2 separate regions of the Homo sapiens genome follow, and region 2 is linked to region 1. The links come from fine-mapping of genetic effects on gene expression. A gene starts in region 1. The other region holds a variant in brackets. All regions are shown on one strand. Distances are between the middles of the regions.

What was found.
Region 2: its variant is fine-mapped to the expression of AMER3 in pancreas (GTEx, PIP above 0.99).

What each region holds. Positions count from the first base shown.
Region 1 is chr2:130,752,905-130,758,280 of GRCh38, forward strand. AMER3 (APC membrane recruitment protein 3) reads left to right here and starts at 2,636. Exons shown (of 2, transcript NM_152698.3): 1 at 2,636-2,770. LOC124907890 (a long non-coding RNA gene) reads right to left here and starts at 2,978. Exons shown (of 2, transcript XR_007087239.1): 1 at 2,779-2,978. RefSeq lists enhancers at 2,412-2,911, 3,790-4,293.
Region 2 is chr2:130,776,126-130,781,501 of GRCh38, forward strand. LOC124907891 (a long non-coding RNA gene) reads right to left here. Exons shown (of 2, transcript XR_007087240.1): 2 at 3,781-4,020. It also overlaps the pseudogene CYCSP8. Among named protein-coding and RNA genes, the nearest start is that of AMER3, 23 kb to the left of the region's middle. The variant C/T (reference allele first, on the strand shown) is at 2,857.

The DNA.
Region 1 (5,376 bases):
TCTACATTGCTGGTGGGATGTCAAATTGTACACAGTGGAGAACAGTATGATAGTTCCTCAGAAAATTAAACATAGAAACCATTATGACTCCAATATGGCACTTCTGTGGTTTATATTCCAAAGAACCAAAAGCAGGAACCTAAACAGGTATTTGTACATTGCTGCTTATAATAGCATTATTCACAATAGCCAAAGGTGGTGCAACCCAAACGGTCCATTGACAGATGAATGGATAAACAAAATGTGGTCTCTACACACAATGGAATAATATCCACTCTTAAAAAGGAAGGATATTCTGATACATGCTGCAACACGGATACACCCTCAAAACATTATGCTAAGTGAAATAAGCCAGCCACAAAAAGACAGATACTGTATGATTCCACTTCTATGAGGTACCTAGAGTGGTCAAAATCAGAGAAAAGTAGAATAGTGGTTCCCAGCAGCTACGGGGAGAGGAGAATGGAGTTTTAGTGCTTAATGGGTACAGAATTTCTGTTGGGGTCAGGAACGTGTTTTGGCAATAGACTGTGGTGATGGTTGCACAACAGTGTGAGTGTAAATGCCACTGAACTGTACACTTAAAAAGGGGTAAATGGTAAATTTCATATTATGTATATTTTACCACAATAAAGAAAAAGAAACCGGCCGGGCGTGGTGGCTCACGCCTGTAATCCCAGCACTTTGGGAGGCGAGGAGGGCAGATCACCTGAGATTGGGAGTTTGAGGCCAGCCTGACCAACATGGAGAAACCCTGTCTTTACTAAAAATACAAAATTAGCCAGGCGTGGTGCTGCATGCCTGTAATCCCAGCTACTCAGGAGGCTGAGGCAGGAGAATCACTTGAACCCGGGAGGTGGAGGTTGCAGTGAGCCAAGATCACACCATTGAACTCCAGCCTGGGCAAGAAGAGTGAAACTCCATCTCAAAAAATAAGATAAAAATTTTTTTAAGAAAAAGAAACCAACTGTTCACTGTTTGGAAATATGAAATAAAAAAGTTTTTAAATATTGAAAATTTTAAAAGAAAAAGAAACAGCTCAAAGCAGTAGGTCTGATGGTACCCCACAAATGCAGCTGACGTGACTGGCACAGTGGATGGCCGACTCATTTGTGCCCACAGTCAACTCTTTGGCCTGCCAAGAAAGCAAGGGGTGGTGTGGCCAGAAGGTCTGAGACCCTGGGGACAACCAAGTGACCAGAAAGCTAGTTCCAGGAAAGAAAAGGTTTACAGCCACTGCTCAAAAACACAGATGAGAAATCTAAGTCAGTGTTTTGTGTGTGTTTTTTTGTTTGTTTTTTTTTTTTTTTTGAGACAGAGTCTCGCTCTGTCACCCAGGCTGGAGTGCAGTGGCACAATCTCGGCTCACTGCAAGCTCCACCTCCTGGGTTCACGCCATTCTCCTGCCTCAGCCTCCTGAGTAGCTGGGACTACAGGCGCCCACCACCATGCCTGGCTAATTTTTTTTGTACTTTTAGTAGAGAGGGGGTTTTGCCATGTTAGCCAGGATGGTCTTGATCTCCTGACCTTGTGATCCGCCCGTCTGGACCTCCCAAAGTGCTGGGATTACAGGCGTGTAAGTCAGTGTATTGTAAAAATAAAATGTAAGTTCACATTAGAATAATATTTAAGAAAAATCATTCAGTGGTATCTGAACTGGGTAGCCTAGTGTAAAAGATTTTTCCAGGAGTCCCTGGGGAAGACCTGATCCCACATCTTGGGGAAATAAAAAATTTGAAATATATATTTTCATGTTACCCAAAAGTTAGGGGTGTTTGAAAACTGTCTGAAATGACAAAGTAGAAGGGTTGGAACAGTTTGCAGTGGCCGAACGATGACCATGTGAGCATCGAAAATGAGCAATTGTCACTCACTGGAAGAAGCTGAATCTGTAATTATCCTCACAATTACATGATTTTATAAGACACATTAAAAAATCCTTAAATGCAAAAGCGGGGAGAGCCTAATAAGGAAGGCTAATGCTTACTAATTTTAACAAGAGGAGGACTGTGGGGTCTGCGGGAGTCCTACCCCTGACTTGGGGTGTATGTGGCAACGAGGCAGAAACTGCCTTCTGTCCTACCTAAGAGAAAGACAGGGAACTCCCACAGCCAGGATCTGCCAAAAAAGGTCAAGACTACCAGCAACATGGGCGAGGGGGCCTCTGGGGTCACGTTGAGTTAGTCGCTGCATAGAAAGAGGGCTCAAATCTAAAAAATGCAAGAGGGTAGGTCACCCAAGGGTGGGGAAGGTCTTGGCTGGAGGATGAAGGGGCCTCTTGTCTCTGGGGCGAGGCGATGTCAAGGGGAATGACAAACCAAACCAGTCCAAAGCAAGGGGACTCTGTGTCCTGGGTTCTCAGACAAGGTGACCGGGAGGGAGCCCACCAAGCTCAGGGAAAGGCCTGGCCTCCGTCATCCACCTGAGCTCTGCCTTCCCTTCAGCCTTAGCCTCAGCGTGGACCCGGGACTCCTGCATCCTCCCGTCCTGCCCCGCCTGGGCACACCACGGCCGAGAGCCTCCTGTTGGCATCAGCCTCTCCCCAGCACCGACTGTGCGCTCCCGCTCCCCCCTCCTCCCCACAACCCCGCCCCACACTACTGGCACTGCTGCCTGAGCCTTCCTGGAGTTACTTAATCCACCCCAGCCCCAGGCACTGAACCACGCGTGCAGACCCCTCGTCCTCAGTTCTGCGGAGACAGAGTCCCCACAGCATTTCTGCTCCTCCCTCAAGACTGCGGCAGAGCACAGCACCAGTAGACCCCACACAGTGAGTACCTGTAGGGCAAGTGCCTCTTTCGTTCTCTTAATAATAGAGTCAGGTCCCTTCTCCAAGGGAAGACCCTGCCTTGCAGCCCCAGCCTGGCCTGCCCCTTCTTGCAGGCCCGCTCCGAACCCTGGGTAAGACTCGTGACGAGGCTCCGGGTGGCCGAGCCCTTCCGAGAGTGCTGCGGTCGGCAGGGCTGGGCTGGCTCTCTGGGCTGAGGGGGAGGGGCTCCCACACCTGTGCGCTCCCGGAAGAGGGGACAGCGGCGGGGGCGCCGTGCGCACGGGGGCGAGGGGAGACGACTGCACCTGAGGGAGGCGCAGCCGCAACCGGGTGGGAGGCAGAGACACCCAGAAACAGAGACGGGGCGATACGAACAGACAAAGCCGGCTCGAGCGCGGCCCGAGCGGCGGCGCAGGGAGGCGGCAGCCTGGCGGAGCAGCCCCCACCGCGGCCGGCGCGCCCCCTCGCCACCCCTGCGCGCCAGCGCCGGCCCGCCCCTCCCGCTGGCCTCTGGCGGCTTAACCCTCGCCTGCCCGACCCCGCGGGGCCCCTGGAGCCGCGGTGGGTGGGTGCGGGCGCCGGGCCTCCCCCTCCCGGCCGCGGCGCGCGGCGCCGGGAGCTGACCGTGGTGCTGAGCGCGGCTCGCGCTCCGACGCGGTGCCCGAGCCTGTCGCGGCCGCGCCCTGCTGCACTGCGGGCCCCCAGCGGTAAGTCGCCAAGGCCCCGAGAGGCTGCGTTGGTCCTGCCCCGCGGATGTGGACCCCCGGGGAGGGCAAGGATTGGGGAATTTGGTGCATTCTCTGGCGCGATGGACGGGCTGAGGGCAGGAAGCAGGGTCGACACCCTCCACCCAGCGGTTCCCGGCGCAGTCAGGGGCCTGGGAGCGGTGACCCTTTTAGGTCTGGGCTAGGGAAGCGGAGAAACCCTCCGCCGGCGGATGCAGGAGCTGAGGGAGAGCCAATATCGCTGTGAGGCCCATCTCCTTGCCCCTGGGCAGGCCAGGACCGCCCAGAGGCGCCCTCCAAGGAGGTGGGCCAGGACCTTCCCTCCCCAGAGGGCCCTTTGTCTCCCCAGTGTGGGGGTTGGGTGGCTTGGTGGTGCTCTCACCGCAGATTCTATTTCTGTTTTATTCCCCATTCCCACCCCCACCCCAGAGCACGGTCGCTTTCCCTCCGCACAGTGGCCCTCACTCCAGCCCTCCCATGACAAGGCAGCCTACTACTGAGAACGCTATTGCCCCATAGCTCTACCGCCAGCCCAGTTTCCAGAGGTCCCTGGGCCTGCGCTTTTTTATCACCATACACTCCTTTGTATCACACTGCTGTGACTTTCCTGCATACCGGGGAAGGCATAGAAAATACCAAAACTATTAGCCAAACGTTTTTTTGTCTCAAGGCGTTTCTGTGGCATGTGTATTCCTCCAGGGTTTTTATTTTGCTCCATGAAATCAAACACCGGGACACTTTCAGGTTAAGAAAGGAAAAAAAAAGCCACGGAATTACCTTCTCAAAGGAAAAAGAAAAAGCTGGGCAGCTAAGCCTGAGTTGGTCATGTAGAAAAGCAACCAGTAGAATAACTTCATTTGCCCAATTTGCAATAAATCCATGTCTGTGTGTGCCGTGTAAAACACTGTGATGGGAGGTGCACAGACAGAGGAGTCTCTGCCACCACCTTCTCTCCCCTAAACCCTGCTTGGGCTCCTAACTCGCCTCTGTGTCTCCGCTGTCCATTTTCACCTGCATCTTTGAAAGTGAGAATTGGCCCGTCACTTGCCCTGGAAGGTTGGCTCCCTGTGGCTTGCAGATAAAAGCACGGCCCTCGCTGAGACCTCAGGCCGGGTGTGGTGTGTACAGCCCATCTCCAGGCCTCATCCCTCTGGCTTGCTGCTCTGGTCACTTGAGCTGCTTTCAGATCCTTAAATATTCTACTTCTCTTGCTCCTCGGGGCCTTTCTGAAGGGTGTTCTCTCTGCCTGGAATATGTGTCCAATGTCTTTTGCCTGGCTGTCCTCTTCTGTCTTTTAAGTTTGGTTTAAATATCACATCCCTGTAACAGAATTAATTAAGTAAATACATTGTGTGGTCCCTGTTCCCATGGAACTTGCAAGTTCGTCTTAGAGATGAAAGACTCAGCCCAGGGTCCTGGTGTCAATGCTGTCTTAAAAAATGATGCACATAGGCCGGGAGCGGTGGCTTACGCCTGTAATCCTGGTACTTTGGGAGGCCTAGGTGGGAGGATCACAAGGTCAAGAGATCAAGACCATCCTGGCTAACACGGTGAAACCCCGTCTCTACTAAAAGTACAAAAAAAATTAGCCGGGCATGGTGGCGGGTGCCTGTAGTCCCAGCTACTCAGGAGGCTGAGGCAGGAGAATGGTGTGAACCCGCGAGGTGGAGCTTGCAGTGAGCCAAGATCACGCCACTGCACTCCAGCCTGGGCGACAGAGCGAGATTCCATCAAAAAAACAAAACAAAACAAAAAACCCACCATCCTGGCCAACATGATGAAACCCCATCTCTACTAAAATTAAGAAAAAAAAAATTAACTGGGCGTGGTGGTGCGTGCCTGTAGTCCCAGCTATTCAGGAGGCTGAAGCAGGGGAATCGC
Region 2 (5,376 bases), 23 kb after region 1:
ACTACAGGCGCCCGCCACCACGCCCGGCTAATTTTTTGTATTTTTAGTGGAGACCGGGTTTCCCCGTGTTAGCCAGGATGTTCTCCATCTCCTGACCTCGTGATCCGCCCGCCTGGGCCTCCCAAAGTGCCGGGATTACAGGCGTGAGCCACCGTGCCTGGCCTGCTAAAAGAAATTTAAGACATAAATAAGTGAAAGATATCCCACATTCATGTACTGGAAGACTAATATTGTTAAATAACAACGCTAACTAAAGTGATTGAATGCAATCCCCATAAAAGTCCCAATGGATTTTTTATCCAGAAATAGAAAAACTCATCCCAAAATTCATATGGAATCTCAAGGGATCCCAAATAGCCAAAATGACCACAAGTGTGGACAAAGCTGGAGGACTCACACTTGCGGATGTGAAAACTTACTATAAAGCTATGTAATCACAACAAGGTGCTATTAAGAGAAGCATTAGCCAGCTTCCAAGCGGGAATCTTCATAGTGTGAGTGATAAAGGAGAGAATTTAACAGGAGTAACGTAGTAAAAGGCAAGAAGATTTTGTTCACAAGGGTACCCAGTGCCACACTGTGGAAAAAAGAGGCAAGCACAGACTGGGCCAGAACTCCATGGGCTCTGGGCAGCAGCCAGGTCAGGCCATTGGATCCCCTTACACAGACGCCAACAGAACACAGCATCACCTGGGGAGAGGAGACACCGGTGGAGTATTTGAAGAATCCAGAGAATTACATCCTTGGAACAAAAACAGTCTTCACTGGCATTAACAAGAAGGTAGAAAGAACAGACTTGATAACTTATCTCAAAAAAGCCACTAATGAGTAATAATTGGCCACTGCCTTTATTTATTACAAAACAAAGGTCTCATAACTTCATGTGCACCAAAATTTAATTGATCTCATACACCAGAATTTAGATCATGAATGAGTGGCAGACCTTTTTTGTTGGACAGTCCTGATTTAAGTCACACTAGCTTGTGGTTAAATGAATATGACTGTTTTTTTGAACTTTGATAGTAATTTCAATTCAGTAAATGTTATCACTGTTTTCCCCTTCTGAAGATATGATTGGACTTCATTAGTAACGTTCAACTTTTCATAAAGGTGGTGAATGCCGTCTCAAAACATATTGGGGATTGGTTTTATATTTAGAGTTCTATAACTGTCTTTATGAATATATTTAAATACTGTCTCAGAACCAAGCAAGACTCACCTATGTTTTAATTTGTGTTCATTACCCTGTAAAAGGCAAGGGCTGAAGATAAGACAGCAATGTCTACTTTATATTTTTGGTCTTAACTATGCCAATCCAATTAGAATTCCCTGGATCTAAAATGCTGCCTTTTACTAATTGAAATGCATTTTATGTGTAATATCAAATAAAGAATAGTTAAAACACTTCTCAAATTTTATAGATGATCTATAAAGTCAGATGCTTCTGAAAATCAGTGTAACAAGAAATAGTAGTAAGGTAAAATTTACTTTTGAATTCTTTGCTATCTAAATCTGACTAAGTTATAATTTAGGATTGCCTTTAAATGATTCAAGCACGTAAAACTGTAGAAGTACTGTGTACGTGTGATTGGTAATGGTGCTTTTGTCAATGTATTAGAAGGATTAAAGTGGAGAAGATATACATTAATTTAGAAATTGTGTGTGATCATAAGACTTTGATAATTATAAACAAAATGACAGATTATAACAAAACCAGGGTGTTACTGGCATAAGGACAGACATAGTGGCCCTCAATTTATAGTCAGTTGATGTTTGACAAGGTTGCCAAAACCATTGAATGGGGAAAGGGCCATCTTTTCAACAAATGATGCTGGGAAAATTGGATATCTGCATGAAAAGTATGAAGTTGGACCCTTAATTTATGCCATATACAAAAATTAACTCAAAATGGAACTAAGACTTAAACATAAGAACCAAAACTATAAATATCTTAGAAGACAACAGAGAGGGAAATCTTTATGATGTTGGATTTTGCCATGATTTTTTGTATATGACACCAAAAATATAAGCAACAGTAAAACAAAACAGTTATTGAATTTCATCAAGATTAAAAACTTTTGTGCATCAAAGGACACTATCAAGAAGGTGAAAAGACAACCTAAAGGATGGGAAAAAATATTTGCACTTCACGAATCTCATAAGAAATTAATATTCAGGATATGTAAAGAATTACTGCAACTCAACAACAAAAAGACGAATAATTCAACTTTAAAAAATAGACAAAAGCCTTGAATAGACATTTCTTCAAAGGAGACACACAAATGCCAAATAAGCACATGAAAACATGCATATTTGCTTATCCCTGATTACTAGGGAAATGCAAATCAAAACCACAATGAGGGCCGGGCGCGGTGTCTCACGCCTGTAATCCCAGCACTTTGGGAGGCCGAGGTGGGCAGATCACAAGGTCAGGAGTTCGAGACCAGCCTGGCAAATATGGTGAAACTGTCTCTACTAAAAATACAAAAATTAGCCAGGCGTGGTGGTGCACGCCTGTAGTCCCAGCTACTCGGGAGGCTGAGGCAGAAGAATTGCTTGAACCCAGCAGGCGGAGGTTGCAGTGAGCAGAGATCATGCCATTGCACTCCAGCCTGGGCGACAGAGTGAGACTCCTTCTCAAAAAACAAACAAACAAAACCCACAATGAGGTACCACTTCACACCCAGTAGGATGACTGTTGGAATAAAAAATGGAAAATAATTGTTGGCAAGGATATGGGAAGATAGGAACGCTTGTTCATTCCTGTTGGGAAGGTAAAATGGTGCAGCCACTGTGGAAATCAGCTTAGCAGTTTCTCAAAAATGAAACATAGAAATTATCATAATCAGCCGGGCG[C/T]GGTGGCTCATGCCTGTAATCCTGTCACTTTGGGAGGCCGAGGCGATTGCCTGAGCTCAGGAGTTCGAGACCAGCCTGGGCAACATGGTGAAACCCTGTCTCTATTAAAATACAAAAAAAAAAAAAAAATTAGCGAGGTGTGGTGGCATGCGCCTATAGTCCCAGCTATTTGGGAGGCTGAGGCAGAATTGCTTGAACCTGGGAGGCGGAGGTTGCAGTGAGCCAAGATGGTGCCACTGCACTCTAGCCTGGTCAACAGAGCGAGACTCTGTCTCAAAAAAAAAAAAAAAAGAAAGAAATTACCATAATCTTGGACATAGAAAATACACAATACTATACCATAAACATAGAAAAAACCTCATCTATTCTATCCCTAAGTATATTCTTAAAAGAAATGAAAGTGGAGACTCAACAAAGATATTTATACTCCATTCTTCACTGCAGCATTAATCACAATAGATAAAAGGTGGAAACAACCCAAATGGTCTTCGACACAAAAAAGGGTAAATAAAATGTGATATAAGCACTCAATGGAATAAAAAAGAATGCAATTCTGATATATGCTAGAACATGGTTGAACCTTGAAGATGTTATGCTAGGCATTAAAGGACAAATGCATGATTCCATTTACATGAGGTACCTAGAATAGGCAACTTCATACAGACAGAAAGTAGAATAGTGGTTACCAGAGGCTAGTGGGGAGGGCAGAATAGAGTGACTTTTTAATGGGTATAGAGTTTCTGTTTGGGGTGATGAAAAAGTTCTGGAACTGGATAGTGGTGATAGTTTGACAATATTGCAATCACCCACAGGTTCATCTTGTCCACTGCCTGGAAAAGCTAATGCACTGAGAACAGCAAGGTTTTGCAGCAAAAATAAAATAAATAATTTAAAAAAGAGTTTAATTAACACAGGGCTAGCCAATTGGAAGATGGAGTTTATTACTCAAATCAACCTCCCTGAGAATTCAGAGGCTAGAGTTTTTATGGATAAATTGTCAGGCAGGGGGCTAGGGAATGGATGATGCTGACTGGGGATGAAGTCATAGGGATGTGGAAAATGGTCCTCATGTGCTAAGTCAACTTCTGGGTGGGGGCCACAGGACCTGTTGAGTCAGGAATCACGGGTCCAGGTGGAGTCAGTTGGTCACCAGAATGCAGAAGTCTGAAAAACAGTACCAAAGGCCAATCTTAGGCTCTACAATAATGATGTTATCTATAGGAGCAATTGGGAACATTATAAATCTTGTGACCTCCAGCACAGTAAATGACTATAGAAAGGCAAGTTATGCCTACATCTTAGCAGAATTCAGGCTGCTCTCATAATCTTAATCTTGTGGTCTCTTTCAATAGTCATAAAAAGGTGGTTTTAGATCCCTGAGCAAAGAGAAGGTTAGTTTTAGGGAGGGACTGTTATCATCCTTGCTTCAAAGTTAAACTATAAATTAAATTCTTCCTACGGTTAGCCTGGCCTACACCCAGAAATGAGTAAGGACAGCCAGCCTGTGAGGCTAGAAGCAAGATGGAGTCAGCCATGCTAGACTTCTTGTGCTCTCATAATCTTTGCAAATTCAGCTTCAATATTGTGAATGTACCTAATGCCACTCAATTGTACACATATAAGTGACTAAAATGGTAAATTTTATGTCATGTATATTACACCACAATAAAAAAGAAAGCAAAAAAAATCAGTGAGTATGAAGACAGAGAATTGAAACTTCCAAAATTGAAATGCGAAGAGAAAATTAACTGGGTAGGTGGGTGCAGGGAAGAGCAGAGAAGAATACAGCATCCAAACTGTGAGACAGATCAAAAAGTGTAACATATATGCAATTACCAGAAGGAGCAGAAAGAGAAAATGGGACTGTATTAGTCTATTCTCACATTGCTATAAAGAACTACCTAAGACTGGCCGGGCACGGTGGCTCACGCCTGTAATCCCAGCACTTTGGGAGGCTGAGGCGGGCAGATCACCAGGTCAGGAGATCAAGACCATCCTGGCTAACAAGGTGAAACCTCATCTCTACTAAAAATACAAAAATTAGCCAGGCGCGGTGGCGGGTGCCTGCAGTCCCAGCTACTCGGGAGGCTGAGGCAGGAGAATGGCATGAACCCGGGAGGCAGAGCTTGCAGTGAGCTGAGATCACGCCACTGCACTCCAGCCTGGGCAACAGAGGGAGACTCCGTCTCAAACAAACAAACAAAAGCTACCTAAGACTGGGTAATTTACAAGGAAAAGAGGTTTAATTGACTCACACTTCTACAGGGTTGGGAGGCTTCAGGAAACTTACAGCCACGGCAGAAGGCAAAGGGAAAGCAGGCACATCTTATATGGCAGCAGGAGAGAGAGAAAGAGGGAAGAGTGAAGAGCCACCCACTTATCAAACAAGCAGAATGTGAGAACTCTATTGACGGGAACAGCACGGGGGAAACTGCCCCCATGATCCAATCACCTCCCACCAGGCCCTCCCCTGTCATGTGGGGATTACAATTTGAGATGAGATTTGTGTGGGGCCACAAA